Regions from separate parts of the Homo sapiens genome. Here region 2 is linked to region 1. Evidence: fine-mapped expression QTL. Tissue or cell type: whole blood. Region 1 holds a variant in brackets; the other region holds the start of a gene. All regions are shown on one strand. Distances are from middle to middle.

Region 1 (8,109 bases):
CTTCTATAGAATATTCTCCTCCTTAAACTTCCTTTAGAGCCTTCCGATACCTCCTGTCCCTTGACTTATATACACACACACCTCCAAAATATACGCAGACCTAAGGAACACAAGTGGAAAACACATTTTTAATTAATACGCTGCTTATCCTTAAAAGTATGTCGTTAGAATGCAACAATATAGAGTCTACATAGAACCCCAGAATACCAAATTTGAAAGCTACAACAAAAATGCCCCATAGCAATCTGAGTAATTTAAAGAACAAAGATGTAAAAAATAAGGCATTCTTACTACTGTATTATATGACTTAAACTTTTGTTTAAGGACAAAATGTTTGGTTGGGTGCAGTGGCCGGTACCCAAATAAAAAACGAAAAACAAAAATACTTTCTCCATATTAAAAAAAAAAATTTTTTTTGAGACAGGGTCTCACCCAGGCCAGAGTGCAGTGGTGCAATCATGCCTCACTGCAGCCTTAATTTCCTGGGCTCAAGCAATCCTGACTCAGCCTCCCAAGTAGCATATACTACCACACTTGGCTAATTTGTCTGTTTTTTTTCTTTTCTTTACTTTCAACCAATGCACACTGGCTGATTTTTTTTTTATTTGTTTTTTTTACTTTTTGTAGAGATGGGGTCTCACTCTGTTGCCCAGGCTGGTCTCAAACTCTGAGGCCCAAGTGATCCTCCCACCTCAGCCCCCCAAAAAGCTTGAATTATAGGCATGAGCCACCGCACCCAGCCAAAACATTTTTTAAAAGCAGACTTAAGGCCAGGTGCAGTGGCTTGCATCTGTAATCCCAGCACTTTGGGAGGCTGAGGCAGGTGTTTGAGGCCAGCCTGGCCAACATGGCAAAACCCCGTCTATAGTAAAAATACAAAAATAGGGCCAGGCACGGTGGTTCAAGCCTGTGATCCCAGCACTTTGGGAGGCTGAAGCGGGCGGATCACCTCAGGTCAGGAGTTCAAGACCAGCCTAGCCAACATGGTAAAACCCTGCCTCTACTAAAAATACAAAAAAATTAGCTGGGTGTGGTGGCACACGCCTGTAATCCCAGCTACTTGGGAGGCTGAGGCAGGAGAATCACTTGAACCCGGGAGGCAGAGGTTGCAGTGAGCCAAAATTGTACCACTACACTCCAGCCTAGGCGAGAAAGCGAGAACTTGTCTCAAAATAATAATAATAATAAAGCAGATTTGAGAAAAGAATCTAATTTCCTAATGGTTAAAAAGTCAAATAAAAAGAGTAGGGCAAAAAACAGGAACATTTAAAATAAAATGTAACAATATTAGACCAGCACCACAGCTTATGCCTATAATCCCAGCACTTTGGGAGGCTGAGGCAGGTGGATTGTTTGAGGTCAGTAGTTTGAGACCAGCTAACATGGCGAACCCTTGTCTCTTTTAAAAATACAAAAATTAGCCAGGTGTGGTAGTACGTGCCTGTAATGCCAGCTACTTGGGAGGCTGAGGCAGGAGAATCGCTTGAACCCAGAAGGTGGAGCTTGCAGTGAGCTGAGATCGTGCCACTGCACTCCAACCTGGGCAATAGAGCGAGACTCTATCTCAAAAAAAAAAAAATGAAGAAGAAGAAAAAAGAGAACTTGTCAATGGATACTAAAGTAAGGTATATATTGGCCAAGGTACATACAAAGGAATATCCAGAGACTAGTCACGCTCTCTTTTTTTTTTTTTGGAAGACAGGGTCTCACTCTGTCACCGAAGCTGGAGTACAGTGGCACAATCATGGCTCACTGTATGCTTGAACTCCTGGGTTCAAGTGATCTTCCTGCCTCAGCCTCCTGAGTAGCTGCGACTACAGGCACATGCCACCACACCCAACTAATTTTTTTTAGAGACAGCATCTCACTATGTTGCACAGCCTGGTCTTGAATTCAAGGCCTCAAGCAGTCCTCCCACATGGGCCTCCCAAAGTGCTGGGATTACAAGCATCAGCTACCGCACCTGGCCTACTCTCCCTTATTTAATGAAAACACAATAATCAGTAATAAGCTACACTGCACTCTAGCCTGAGTGACAGAGCAAGACTCTGTCACACACACAAAAAATAATAATAATAATAAGCTATAAAGAAAACATATAAATCTTATATTAGAAAAATTTTAGACTTTTCAAAGTGCTTCACATTCATATTCTATCACACCATTGCAAAATATCCTAACAGTAAGTGACAAATCCAAAATTACAAAAGTAGTTGATCAGATCTGAAACCTGATTCAAAAAACATGTTTGCTCTATGGGAGGAAATATAAATATGTATAAATTCCTTCTTTATGCTAATTTTCTTACTCATTCCTAGTTAAAATATCACTTATCAGACCTAGGCTATTGCAAACATGGAAGTAAAATTCAGTAAAACAAAGCCAAAAGTACCACTTTTTTTATTTAGCCAGTCTACCCTTCAACCAGGAATCATATGAAAAACATTCCATCAATGTTCTGTGTGTTTAAGACTGTGCTGGGCACTGGGGTGACTAGAAGAGAATTCAAATAGCGTTCTTTGCTTTTCAGAAAGTATGCACTCCATTTGATAAAAAGACAAGAAAAAAAGAAAACAAAGCCAAGCTGTGTTCAAACAATCCTCCTAAAGGAAGAAAACTTACTGTGTGGTTCTGTAAAACTCCAGGTAACAAGGATACCAAGAAGTGAGATAGCAGAGTTTAGTCTGAAACAACCTCATGGGGAAAAAAAAAAAATGAAATCTGAGCTGAACATTGAAGGATGGACAGGAATTAGAAAAGCACAAAGGAGGAATTAAAGCATTCAGGCAGAGACTGGCAGAAATAAAGGCCAAGAAGTGGGAAGAAGCATGATACACACAGAAGAGACTGAGGTGACCTGCCTGGAACATAGGTGCATGCAGAGGCATAATGGGAAAGAGTTTGGTAAATCAAGTGGGGTCAGCTCCCAATAGACTGCTGGGTCACAGAGACATGCTGTTAGAATATTAAAATCATCGAATATTTAAACTTGAAAGAATCTAAAAGATTTTCTAGCCATTTCTTTTTCAACAGATGAGGAAATCAAGGATCTATAGGAAAGCTAATGGCTAGGATAGGGACAAAGGCACTGAATAGCAGAACAAAACTAAGACCCCCGCTAAGGAACTCCAATTCAGTAGAAAAGTATTGTGTCTTGGGAACTGGAAGAGATTGGTTTCCGGGGGGAGTGGAACATCACAGTGGCATTACAACTAAGCAATGACCACTATGTTTTGCCAGAAGTAATCACTTTCAAGAAAACAGCAATCAAGCAGAGGCAGGAGCTACTTTTCAGAGTTATAAAGGAAATGGGTGGATAAACAGTAGAGGCGGTGAGTATCTGGCAACAACAACAACAAAAAAGACTGGTCCACAGAGAGAGAGCTGCAGGACCAAGTAAA[C/T]GTCTGATTTCCAAGAGAAAGGAAATCTTAGCCTGAAAAGTGAAAAGAAAGCAGCCAACATAAAGACTAAATTAGTTCCCAGACAGATAAGGTGGAAAGTGTAAGGGAGTGCAGAGAACTGAGGAACAGCTGGAAGAAATCTTTCTAAAGGATGAATTCCGGGCCGGGCACGGTGGCTCATGCCTGTAATCCCAGCACTTTGGGAAGTCAAGGCAGGTGGATCACGACATCAAGAAATTCAGACCCATCCTGGCTAGCACGGTGAAACCCTGTCTCTACTAAAAATACAAAATTAGCTGGGCGTGGTGGCATGCGCCTGTAGTCCCAGCTACTTGGGAGGCTGAGGCAGGAGAATCGCTTGAACCCAGGAGGCAGACGTTGCAGTGAGCTGAGATCGCGCCACTGCACTCCAGCCTGGGCGACAGAGTGAGACTCCATCTCAAAATAAATAAATAAATAAAAATTTAAAATAACAATAATAATAAATTAAAAAATTCCGAAGCAAAGAATAAGCATTATTGTGCTCGATTCAGCACCACATATACTAAAATTGGAAGAATAAGCATTATTTCTCACTCACCATAAAGAATTCGTCACCATAAAAGAGTACTCATTTTCAACTACTATAAGGCCTTATAAAAATTACACACCAGGCTTGAAGAATGAGGCTAGGAGATATTTTTTAAATCCAAAAAGCTTCAGTTTTGCAAATCTATTTGTCTAATCAGTATGTGGTTTGTAATTTCGAAGATACTTGCCAATCATTTTATACTGTGAATCACTCACCGCATATTCAACGTACATTCAGATGAACACTCAATGTATGAGAACAACAAATATGCTACTACAACCTCTAAAATCAGAGTTTATTCCATAACATATTCTTTAAATTGGGTTTTTTGGCTTTTATGTACTACTTTTGCTTGATCAGATATGGAAAATATAATTGCTTTAAATGAACATATTTACAACAAATCATTTTGGGATGGAGTTCTTTTTAATTCTTTTTTTTTTTTTTTTAGTTCAAATATCCATAGTTTTCCCATACTTCCCTTCAGAAATAAAGCTCTACAGGAACCAGTGGGGCATACAGAACTAGGGGAGATACACAGAAGGTTCTAATTTGCTTAGAAACTGGGTTAATGAACCACAATTAAAAGCTACACATGGCCGGGCGTGGTGGCTCACGCCTGTAATCCCAGCACTTTGGGAGGCCAAGGCAGGTGGATCACCTGAAGCCAGGAGTTGGAGACCAGCCTGGCCAACACGGTGAAACCCCCGTCTCTACTAAAAATACAAAAATTAGGCAGGCGTGGTGGTGGGCGCCTGTAATCCCAGCTACTTGGGAGGCTGAGGCAGGAGAATGGCTTGAACCCAGGAGGCAGAGGTTGCAGTATGCTGAGATCTCCCCATTGCACTCCAGCCTAGGAGACAAGAGCGAAACTCTGTCTCAAAAAAAAAAAAAAAAAAGCTACACACCTACAATTTGTCAGTTTCAATTAGAAACTTGCTATTTGGCACCACGAAGGCAGGTTAAGGAGAGATGTAAGATTTAACTGATAACATTCAGCTTTCTGGCTGTCCACCTGTGCAACTGTCATTTCCCTAACCAAGGAGGTGATTACTTCTAAAATTGGTAATACTCATTCAACTTAGACCCTAAATACTAGGTTTAGCTGCAATATTATCAGGTTAAGGAATTTTATATTACCCACAAGAATGTGAGCTCAAAATGTCAATATGGCACACATCCACTTCTTTTAACTGAGTCTACTGCACTAAGTTGCTAAGCGATACCCATCAGAGTGCAATATGTCTGTAATCAGCAGTGGCTAGAAATGCATTTCTGCTTTAATCACACCGAATATTAGAAATCCAACCAAAACAGCAATCATAAACAGAGTTGCCATCTTTAGACATGCACATGCTCCCTGGGGGCGTTAAGTGGTCCAACAGGCAAACTCTTAGCTGTAATAAGAAGGAAAGCTTAACTCCCCCTGGGCCCAGTAAAGCAAAGTACAGATAATATAATCCAAAATTCAAAAGTTTTATAAACAGTTGAAACTATTAAGATTCTTTTTTTTTTTTTTTTTTTCTGAGATGGAGTCTCGCTCTGTCACCCAGGCTGGAGTGCAGTGGCGCAATCTCGGCTCACCGCAAGCTCCACCTCCCAGGTTCAGGCCATTCTCCTGCCTCAGCCTCCCAAGTAGCTGGGACTACAGGCACCCACCACCACACCCAGCTAATTTTTGTATTTTTAGTAGAGATGGGGTTTCACTGTGTTAGCCAGGATGGTCTCGATCTCCTGACCTCATGATCGGCCCGCCTCGGCCTCCCAAAGTGCTGGGATCACAGGCGTGAGCCGCCGCGCCCGGCCAACTCTTAAGATTCTTATACAACTATCTCTCAGTACATGCAGGGCTTTTTCTCCCCTCAATAAAAATGTAAGCGATGGCTCACGCCTGTAATCTCAGCACTCTACTAAAAATAACAAATGTTATCCAGGAGTGGTGGCAGGCGCCTGTAATCCCAGCCACTTGGGAGGCTGAGGCAGGAGAATCACTTGAACCCAGGAGGCAGAGGTTGCAGTAAGCCAAGGTCGCATCATTGCACTCCAGCCTAGGCAAGAATCATGAAACTCCGTCTCAAAAATAAAAAAAATAAAATAAAGTCTTCTAAATATATTTAATGGATTAGAACAAATTTTATGGGATACTTAGGAAAAGTATCTCCCTGATGGTCAAGCATTCACTACTTTTCATACTGAAGCTCTTATTAGATCTATGTCACTTAACCTTCCCATGCCTCAGTTTTCTGACTAAAAGACATTTTCAACCGTAAGGTGAACTCTAATTTGAATTAAACATTTATCACTTATATAATAAATTAATATATTAATTTATTTTATATATATACTATATATAATATATATAAGTACCTTATGTTAAACACTGAAAACCCTTACATTTTTGTATCTCAAGGTCAGAGACTTTAACTTTCTAAGAGAAAAATGTGAGGAATAGGCCAGGCACAGTGGCTCATGCCTGTAATCCCAGCACTTCGGGAGGCCGAGCAGGGGGTGGGGGGCAGATCACCTGAGGTCAGGAGTTCAAGACCAGCCTGACCAACATGGTGAAACCCCCGTCTCTACTAAAAATACAAAAATTAGCCAGGCACGATGGTGCACACCTGTAATCCCAGCTACTTGGGAGACTGAAGCAGGAGAATCACGTGAATGTGGGAAGCAGGGGTTGCAATGAACCGACATCAAGCTACTGCACTCCAGCGTGGGCGACAGAGCAAGACCTTGTCTCAAAAAAAAAAAGTGAGGAATAATCTCTCCTATATATCTTTCTCTTAATTACAACATAAGGAATGCAGAAAAATGCTGTTTTAAAAACTAATGTCCTTAATTTTTAACAGATGGTGGTGAGTTTGATTCCACAATATGCATAACAAACAACGAAGCCTTAAGGTCTTTTAAAGCTAGGGACAGAAGGAGAAACACTTTCTTGCTTTACTGGGTATATAATCAAAATCATTCCTCCTTTTTTTTTTTTTTTTTTTTTGGAGACAAGAGTCTCGCTCTGTCGCCCAGGCTAGAGTGCAGTGGTGTGATCTCAGCTCACTGCAACCTCCACCTCCCGGATTCAAGCAATTCTCCTGCCTCAGCCTCCCGAGTAGCTGGGATTACAGGCGCCCGCCACCATGCCCAGCTAATTTTTGTATTTTTAGTAGAGACGAGGTTTCTCCATGTTGGTCAGGCTGGTCTCAAACTCCTGACCTCAGGTGATCCACCTGCCTTGGCATCCCAAAGTGCTGGGATTACAGGCGTGAGCCACCGCGCCCAGCCCAAAATCATTCCTCTCTTAAGTATCTTTTTCCAATATGGCAAATAAGCCTAGAGATGAACAGGTAAGAAGTAAAAAAATAAAATTAAGAAAAAACTGAAAAAAATTTTTAATTTTTAAAATTTAAGGAGAATTGCGGCGTGGATCCTTCAATTTCCTACATCCAGATTCTGCTGTCCACAAGGTTCAGCTTTGGAAGTCTTCTATGTGCCTTTTAAATCCTTTCTTAAAATTACAGAGTCTTTTCTACCAAGTTTTAAATCTAACGCTCTATCAATAATGTAATCTTTTATATGCAGTAACATTATACTTCAGATGGATTAGTAGTTTAGTTTAGATGCCTTTGGGTCTGGAAGCATACGAATGGATAAAACAATTCCTTCAAGTCTCTGACAGCTTCATAACTCTATTTTATCTACATAGCTTCTTCTCAACTTCCTCTGTCTATTCCAAGATATTTTCCAGGTAGGTCTGAAACGCTGAGTCCCGTAAAGAAATGTTTATGCATCAAATAACAGAAGAGCTCTTCCCCCACCCCTTCAGCTCCCATAATGTTTTACCATTATATCCAGTAAACAAAATAGGTTGACTCAATCTTAAACAATTCCCCCATCACAGGAAGCCCACTGCACCCACAGCTGCAGAAAGCATCCCTTAAACCATCCCCAACTACCTACAGCAACACAAAGTTAAACCAATTTCCACTGACAAAAGGCTATGTGTGCATTTATTCTAATCAGCCCCAGGATTTATTGTGTGAAACTCAGGCGATAAAAAGTCACCTCCTCAAGCTACAAAACTTTTTTTTCATCCCAAATATTCTCAATGAAAGTTCTCTTGTCAACCAGGAGAGAGTC
Region 2 (8,109 bases), 200 kb before region 1:
GGTACCGGTATATGACTAAACAAACAGATCAATGGAACAGAAGAAAAAGTCCAGAAATAAATATCAAATCAGTGGAAACAAGCATTGGAACAATTGGATAGACATCTGGAAAAAAGAAAAAATTTGATCCATACTTCACACTATATTGGAACACCAAGGACCAGAGTTCTAAATATAAACCATGAAATTATACAAGTAATAGAAGAAAATATGAGTAAATTCCTTTATAATCTGGAAGCGGGAAAAAACCTTCCTAGCTGAGACTCAAAATCCAGAGGCAATAAAAAGGGAAATCAAATTATATGAAACTTTTAAATATCACACACATGCAAGTGCGCATTACACACAGACACACACACCTCACCATAATAAAGCCAAAAGACAAATGGCAAACTGGAAAAAAAAATTAAAACTTAAATCAAGACAAAGTGCTAATACCTCTAAAATTTAAAATGCTCCTAATATGGGGCAGGAAGGGGAAGACCCAAAACACAACTTTTAATAGTGCAAAACATTAAAAAGACAGTTACAGGAGAAAACATTTAAATGGTCTTTAAACATATGTAAAGACATATACTCCCCCTCATAATTACAGAGATGCATTTAAAATTAGATGGAGATACTTGCCTATCAGATGGACAATAAATCCCAAAGTTCAACAACAAAGTATACAGTGAGGCTGTATAGAACTCGACACCATGATACACTGTTGGTGGGACTGCAAAATGGTATAATCAATGGAGAGGAATTTAGTAATGTCTGGAAAAATTCCAAATGCATTTACCCTTTTACCCAGCAATCCTACTTCTAGGAATCTTTTTCAAAGATTTACTGGCAAACATATAAAATTATTTAGGTACAAGGGTATTCACTGTGGCATTATTCGTAACAGCAAAAGTCTGAAAAACCCAGATGTCCACCAATAGGGGACTGGTTGAATAAGCCATGGTACATTCCCAAATGGAGTACTATGGATCAAACAGTGAATCATACAGATACCTATATACTGATATGGAGTGATACTCAAGATACAGTAAGAAAAGAAGAACAAGTTATCTAACAGTATGTATATATGTCACCTTTTATATTAGAAGGGGGGATAAGAACATACCATACATATGCTTACATTTTTTTTAGGTTTTCAAAAAGAAATGTTAATGATACAACGAAAAACTAATAAAAACAGTTACTAATAGCAGAAGGAAGGAAATAGGATGGAAAAGACAGAGAAGCAAGATTTATCTGAATATACATTGTTATATATATAATTTTGACTTGTGATCCTGAAAAGCTGAAAACTGAAACAAAGTTTATATCAAGTTGGTGATATAAAAATACACAGAAAAGAATTATTTCACATTGCATTAGAACACAGAATTTACTATACACTTTTAGTAAAATAAAGCAAGCAGAGCTACAAACAAATTTTAAACTTTATTCGGTAGTCTATAATCTAATTGTAGCAATCAATACTGGTATTATTTTGAAATTATTGTGAGATGATGCAAATGAGCAATTATGTCAATGATATGAGGAATCACTTATAGAAAATATGGGGGACAGAAGAACAAATTAAATCTTCCCAAAGAGTCAAAGAGAAAACTCCAAGATGAGAGACATTTTAGGAAATAATTGACTGAGTTTTGGCAACAAGCCAGTGGCATAAAGAAAAAAAGGAGTAGGGAGGTGGGCAAAGAAACTGATTCATTTGGATTTTGACTTGGTAATTTCTATGTTGTTATTTCTTTCATGCTTTTAAAGTACTTTATTGAGTACTCTCAGTTGTATTCAGCAGGAAAATCAGTCTAAATAGCCAACCATATTACCAAAAATAAACAATATCTGACTCTCAAGCATAGCAAATGTTACCTATAATAATGGAAAACTGAAACCACTGATTAGCGTGGGATAGCTATTCCTTGGCAGATGCTTTGTGATACCTTTCACAATGTTGGGGTAATATATCCTAGGACACAAAAGAATACGTAAATTAATTTACTGCTTAATCTAGAATGTAAAAGTTGCCTAACTATCATTACTGACCTAGACAGCCTAATAGAAAATGTAATGAGTCTGAATAATATTTAAAATAAGTTGTAACACATACTTATGCCTCTAAAAAATATTTTTTTTGAGTAACAGTAATACAGTATTATTTTATTTCATGAGAATTTCTTTTATTTATTTATTTATTTTTATTATACTTTAAGTTTTAGGGTACATGTGCACAACGTGCAGGTTAGTTACATATGTATACATGTGCCATGCTGGTGTGCTGCACCCAGTGTAAGAGATTGTTAGAATTCAAATATATTGAAATGATCTCCCTTTTTCTTTTTGAGAATTTTACAATAATCTTTGAATAATATGAAGCAATTTGGTATGTCCCAAACTTGAAATGAGAAACATTGCCACTACTATTGCACTGGAATTTTCTATTATATACAACAGAAACTAAACTTGATACAGCCTAAACCCAAATTCATTTGAATCCATTAATGAAGTAACATGTCTTTTCTTTCAAACAAAAGTACTGTTAAGTGTAATGAAAATGCATAACTCTACTTCTACACTGACTTAATGAGGTTTCCTAAAATTAAGAGATTTAAGTGGTCGGTAAATTGACCCTCAGTCACATCTTTAGAAGTGCAGCAGTGTATATATGAGCTTAAATAGAACTCTAAATGTCAATGCATTCCCTATTTCCACAATATTGCTGAATGTAGTATTTTTAACACATTATTTTAAGCACTATGATTGATGGCTGGTTTCCTAAATCCACAGTAAGAATCCAATTGAGAGTTCAACTGAACCCTCAAAGTAAAGTGGCAATAAAGCACCCAATCAACAATAAACTTCTATGTTGCGGACTCTTAAAATGCAGATACTTTTCGAGGAACATTAGTTTTATACAAAAGGTGGCTCCTAGAGTATAGTTTCTCTTGTAAGAAAATAAACTTCAAATTTTAATACAACAAATTCTATTTGTGGTATAATCTAAATAATGCTAATATAATTTAGAGAAAAACAAACGATTTAGTAACAAGGCATAAAGAGACTTTCCTTACACATAACATGCTAAATATTACTCGTTTTTAAATGGTGCCACTTGGTAACGAAAATACCGTAACTTTATTTGCTTTCTTTAAACTTGCCATTCTGGAAATCAGATTTGTGTTTTAACAGATTTACACAAGCAGTCCACTGAAGAGTGGAGCAAAATTTATCATAAATCTGATCTCACTTTATAAAACTCATGATGAAAAATTTTCCTTTTATATCATTTCATGTAATTTTAAAACTATAAACTACTTTCCCAGAAAGATGAAATGTGCAACACTCTGAAATCACCTAAATTGATACTGCTATTCTTAAAACATAAAATCAAATAAATGGTCATTCATACAGCACCAAAAATGTCTTTGGAAAAAACAATACTCATATCCACTTACCACCCAAGGTTGCATAAAGAAAAAAAACTTTAACTCCAAATATATAAAATAAAACATGTTTATTTTACATAGGAACTGATAATCTGAAGTATAAGATGCTAATTTCCAAATGTATCCTGGCTTGTGTGTAGCCTTGGTCAAATGATCATTGTATCAGAAAGATAAAGAAAAAATAATCGTATTTCAGTACTTCTATACATCCTAAAAGGGAAGACGGAACACTTAAGTGGTTGATAAATTTGAAAAGCTGATTAAACATAATAATCACCATGTTGGGGGAAGACATAAAAGTCATAAAACAGATTTTTTATAATATTAAAAAAGTGACATGAAAATTATACAATTTTAGAAAGGAATATAAAAAGGCAGGAGTTAAAAAATAGTGGGACTAATATCATAGAAAACTATCCATGAGGAAGGTCAAATTTATTTTCAACATGTAAAAAGGATAAAGAGTAGAGGTATTTTAAAAATTCACAGATTCTTAATGAGGCAAATGTTAAAATATGGAACCCAATCTCAGACAAATACATAGAAAGGAGTAAGGGCCAACTCTCATGCATAAGGTATCCCATCCTATAGCAAATCAGATATATAGGTACGCTTGATGCCACAAATTTTTTAAAAAATTGTCCATTTTGTTGCGTGTGCACCTCTTGCCATAAATTTGAGTCAGCACCAGCGACAGCTCTGCAGTCCTCCTATGTGGTACTGATCAGGTGGTTGCAGAGCTTCAGCTCACAGCAACACAATGCAGCTGAGCAGGCAAGCACAGCCCACAGCCAGAAACAGTTCCGACTCTACAGAACAAGACGACCTTTAAGTTTCCCAGAGAAAATGAGATGCTGATGTTGAAGACGACACCACGGTAAGATGTTATTTAAATCAGTAAAAGGCTGACTTTGGAATCTTTTTCCTTTTTCTTTTAAGAAAAAGTCAACGTTAGGATTAAATATATATTCAATAGCAAGTGCATGCACCAGAAATTTGCTGCAGTGTCAGTTGAGGGATATTTTTTATACATTCAGTCACTCTGTAAATATACATATTGTTTTCCTTTAAAATGGGCACTGAAATATACAGAAAAAAATCACTTTATAAAATGTGAGGTTTATAGGTACTGTGTTGGTCTGGATTTTTCAAGTGCTTTTTACAAAGATATATTTATCCTAAAAACATACAGATAAAATTTCGAAGAACTGCTTTAATATCTAAATAAAATCTACCCTATATACACACATTGAATTACATTACTGCAGAGATTAAAAAAAAAAGACACGACAGCCATTTTTTCTCATCTGAGTAAGAAAGCATATCATCAAAAATAGTAATAGCCTACAACTGCAACTATTTATTTGCAAAGAATGCTATTTTATCATATTAAGGCTCTAGAAAGATAAATAAGAAAGAATATGGTTAGAAAAGGGGGGAGGGAGAGAGAAAATAAAGGAGAAAATGCAGGAGAGAGTAGGGAGAGAGTCTCTCTCTACCACATAGCCCAATTGAAGGATTAAGCATTTGGACTATAAATGAAGGGGAGCTTTGTTAGTTTAATCACTGGAACAATTATAAAAGGACTCGACAACAACGAGGTTTATTGAAAATTTTGCCTAATGCTAACTGACCCATGCAGATGCCTAAACTGTATTTGCATATTAAAAGAAGGGTGTATCTGTTTGTTTCTAGGCTTTGATGGAATATCAGATATTGAAAATGTCTCTCTGCCTGTTCATCCTTCTGTTTCTCACACCTGGTATTTTATGCATTTGTCCTCTCCAATGTATATGCACAGAGAGGCACAGGCATGTGGACTGTTCAGGCAGAAACTTGTCTACATTACCATCTGGACTGCAAGAGAATATTATACATTTAAACCTGTCTTATAACCACTTTACTGATCTGCATAACCAGTTAACCCAATATACCAATCTGAGGACCCTGGACATTTCAAACAACAGGCTTGAAAGCCTGCCTGCTCACTTACCTCGGTCTCTGTGGAACATGTCTGCTGCTAACAACAACATTAAACTTCTTGACAAATCTGATACTGCTTATCAGTGGAATCTTAAATATCTGGATGTTTCTAAGAACATGCTGGAAAAGGTTGTCCTCATTAAAAATACACTAAGAAGTCTCGAGGTTCTCAACCTCAGTAGTAACAAACTTTGGACAGTTCCAACCAACATGCCCTCCAAACTACATATCGTGGACCTGTCTAATAATTCTTTGACACAAATTCTTCCAGGTACATTAATAAACCTGACAAATCTCACACATCTTTACCTGCACAACAATAAGTTCACATTCATTCCAGACCAATCTTTTGACCAACTCTTTCAGTTGCAAGAGATAACCCTTTACAATAACAGGTGGTCATGTGACCACAAACAAAACATTACTTACTTACTGAAGTGGATGATGGAAACAAAAGCCCATGTGATAGGGACTCCATGTTCTACCCAAATATCATCTTTAAAGGAACATAACATGTATCCCACACCTTCTGGATTTACCTCAAGCTTATTCACTGTAAGTGGGATGCAGACAGTGGACACCATTAACTCTCTGAGTGTGGTAACTCAACCCAAAGTGACCAAAATACCCAAACAATATCGAACAAAGGAAACAACGTTTGGTGCCACTCTAAGCAAAGACACCACCTTTACTAGCACTGATAAGGCTTTTGTGCCCTATCCAGAAGATACATCCACAGAGACTATCAATTCACATGAAGCAGCAGCTGCAACTCTAACTATTCATCTCCAAGATGGAATGGTCACAAACACAAGCCTCACTAGCTCAACAAAATCATCCCCAACACCCATGACCCTAAGTATCACTAGTGGCATGCCAAATAATTTCTCTGAAATGCCTCAACAAAGCACAACCCTTAACTTATGGAGGGAAGAGACAACCACAAATGTAAAGACTCCATTACCTTCTGTGGCAAATGCTTGGAAAGTAAATGCTTCATTTCTCTTATTGCTCAATGTTGTGGTCATGCTGGCTGTCTGAGGGTCTGCATTTTCTGAAACTAATGAAAGCACTCCTCCCTGATGTACAGTTGGGAAAATATGTCCATATCTAACCAGTGATTCGAGCTATATTTAAGTATTCAAGAAAGCCAGTCTTAACATTTCTAACTCTGATGTAAATGAAGTAACTTGTCTTAAATAAAAGAAATGCACAATGTCTTGGTACTTGCTGCTATTTTACTGTCTTAATTAAGTAAACTAATGAGTTTCTTTTATAAAAAAAATGAAATGTTTTAAGGCTTCAATTTATTGCACAAAATATAAAGCATCTAAACTTTAATATGTATTTTATGTATGTTTACACTGTCAAACATCTGGAAAATAAAAGGTCTATGCTCATAACTGTGTCATTTGGCTTTCCAGTCATACCAACTTTAGCAGAATCAAAATGACCTCACCATTTTTGTTCTAGGGTACCTTGGTAAAATCTTTAAGGTAAATAAAATGGCGGTAGTATCCAAGGATATTTTACTGAAGTAAAATCGTAGCTGCCATCCCATGAATGGTTATGCTACAACATTATTTTACAGACAAGCCATAATTGTTTTAAATCTAAATGATGTCCTGCTTCTGAGGAACTCTTGGCTACTTGACAGATTATATAATGGACAAAAGCTCTTCAAAAAGCTAGAAGACACTAGGCTTTGCATTTTAATAAGAAAAGTTTAACGGTTGTGTTTTTTGCATGTAAGAAAAGTGTTAAAAACATAATGAAAAAATTTAAAAACATGTAAAGAAGCAGTTTTAGTGCAGATTTAACACACCATTAATGGAGAATTTAAATATTTACAAAATTAAAATCCTACTACATGAAGGAGAAGAAAATTTATCTTTTACAAATCAGAAATCAGAATTACCTAAATTAAAAATAAGATTAGCTTAAGAATAAAATCATTGGGTCTGACGAACTTGGGCAGTACTGAGGAAGTGAGGAAGGAGAGAGGGAAAGGGAAAAGGGCATTTGGTACTACAACCAGGTGGTGAACCCAGTAAAACAGACTGAGGACTAAGGCTAGGCATGGGACAGAGATCTTGACACTCCAAATCAAACCACACTGGAACTCCAACTAGAAGAAAATCACTGAGAAATTCTCTACAAATATAAAAGTTAGCCAACTTATGAATTAGTGACAAACATAAGAAACAGCCACAAGGCAGCAAAAGAAGTCCTGAAACAGGATTGATTAAAATGCAAGACAGCATAACTGAGATGGGTGAGACACAAATGTGGTATTTAATTTGTGAGACGTAAGGCAGAATCTCATTTCAAGCATTTCTAGAGGTGGGAAAAGATAGAGAAAGGAATTTTTATGTTCCTTCGTAAAAACTTTTAAAAATTCAGATAGCCTCCTTTGCTGGTTTAGGAACATTTCTATTGAGAGAGAGAAAAGTAACAACACTCTAATGTGTTCTTTTTTTTGCTTTTTAAGGACCAGGATTATGGAAAAATTACCATTAAGCTTCAACAAAACAGTCATCTTTCATGCTGTCTAGTACAGTGGCTCTCGAACATTTTCTGCCTTAGCAAACCTGATTGGCTCACTGTGTCAGGGAATCTCACCATGAAGAAACAGGATTATTTGAAAAAGTCCCCTAAATGATTTTAAAATGCATTACCTCTC

What was found. PIP is the estimated chance that this variant, and not a neighbour inherited with it, causes the effect.
Region 2: it holds the start of OMG, and the variant in region 1 is fine-mapped to the expression of OMG in whole blood (TOPMed, PIP above 0.99).

Annotation. Positions count from the first base shown.
Region 1 is chr17:31,096,321-31,104,429 of GRCh38, reverse strand. The region is part of intron 1 of NF1 (neurofibromin 1); the gene reads right to left. Among named protein-coding and RNA genes, the nearest start is that of MIR4733HG, 4.9 kb to the right of the region's middle. RefSeq lists a silencer at 586-767. The variant C/T (reference allele first, on the strand shown) is at 3,402.
Region 2 is chr17:31,293,367-31,301,475 of GRCh38, reverse strand. OMG (oligodendrocyte myelin glycoprotein) reads left to right here and starts at 4,237. Exons shown (of 2, transcript NM_002544.5): 1 at 4,237-4,320; 2 at 5,139-6,829. The coding sequence starts at 5,145. The coding sequence ends at 6,467. All of the region lies in intron 36 of NF1 (neurofibromin 1), which reads right to left.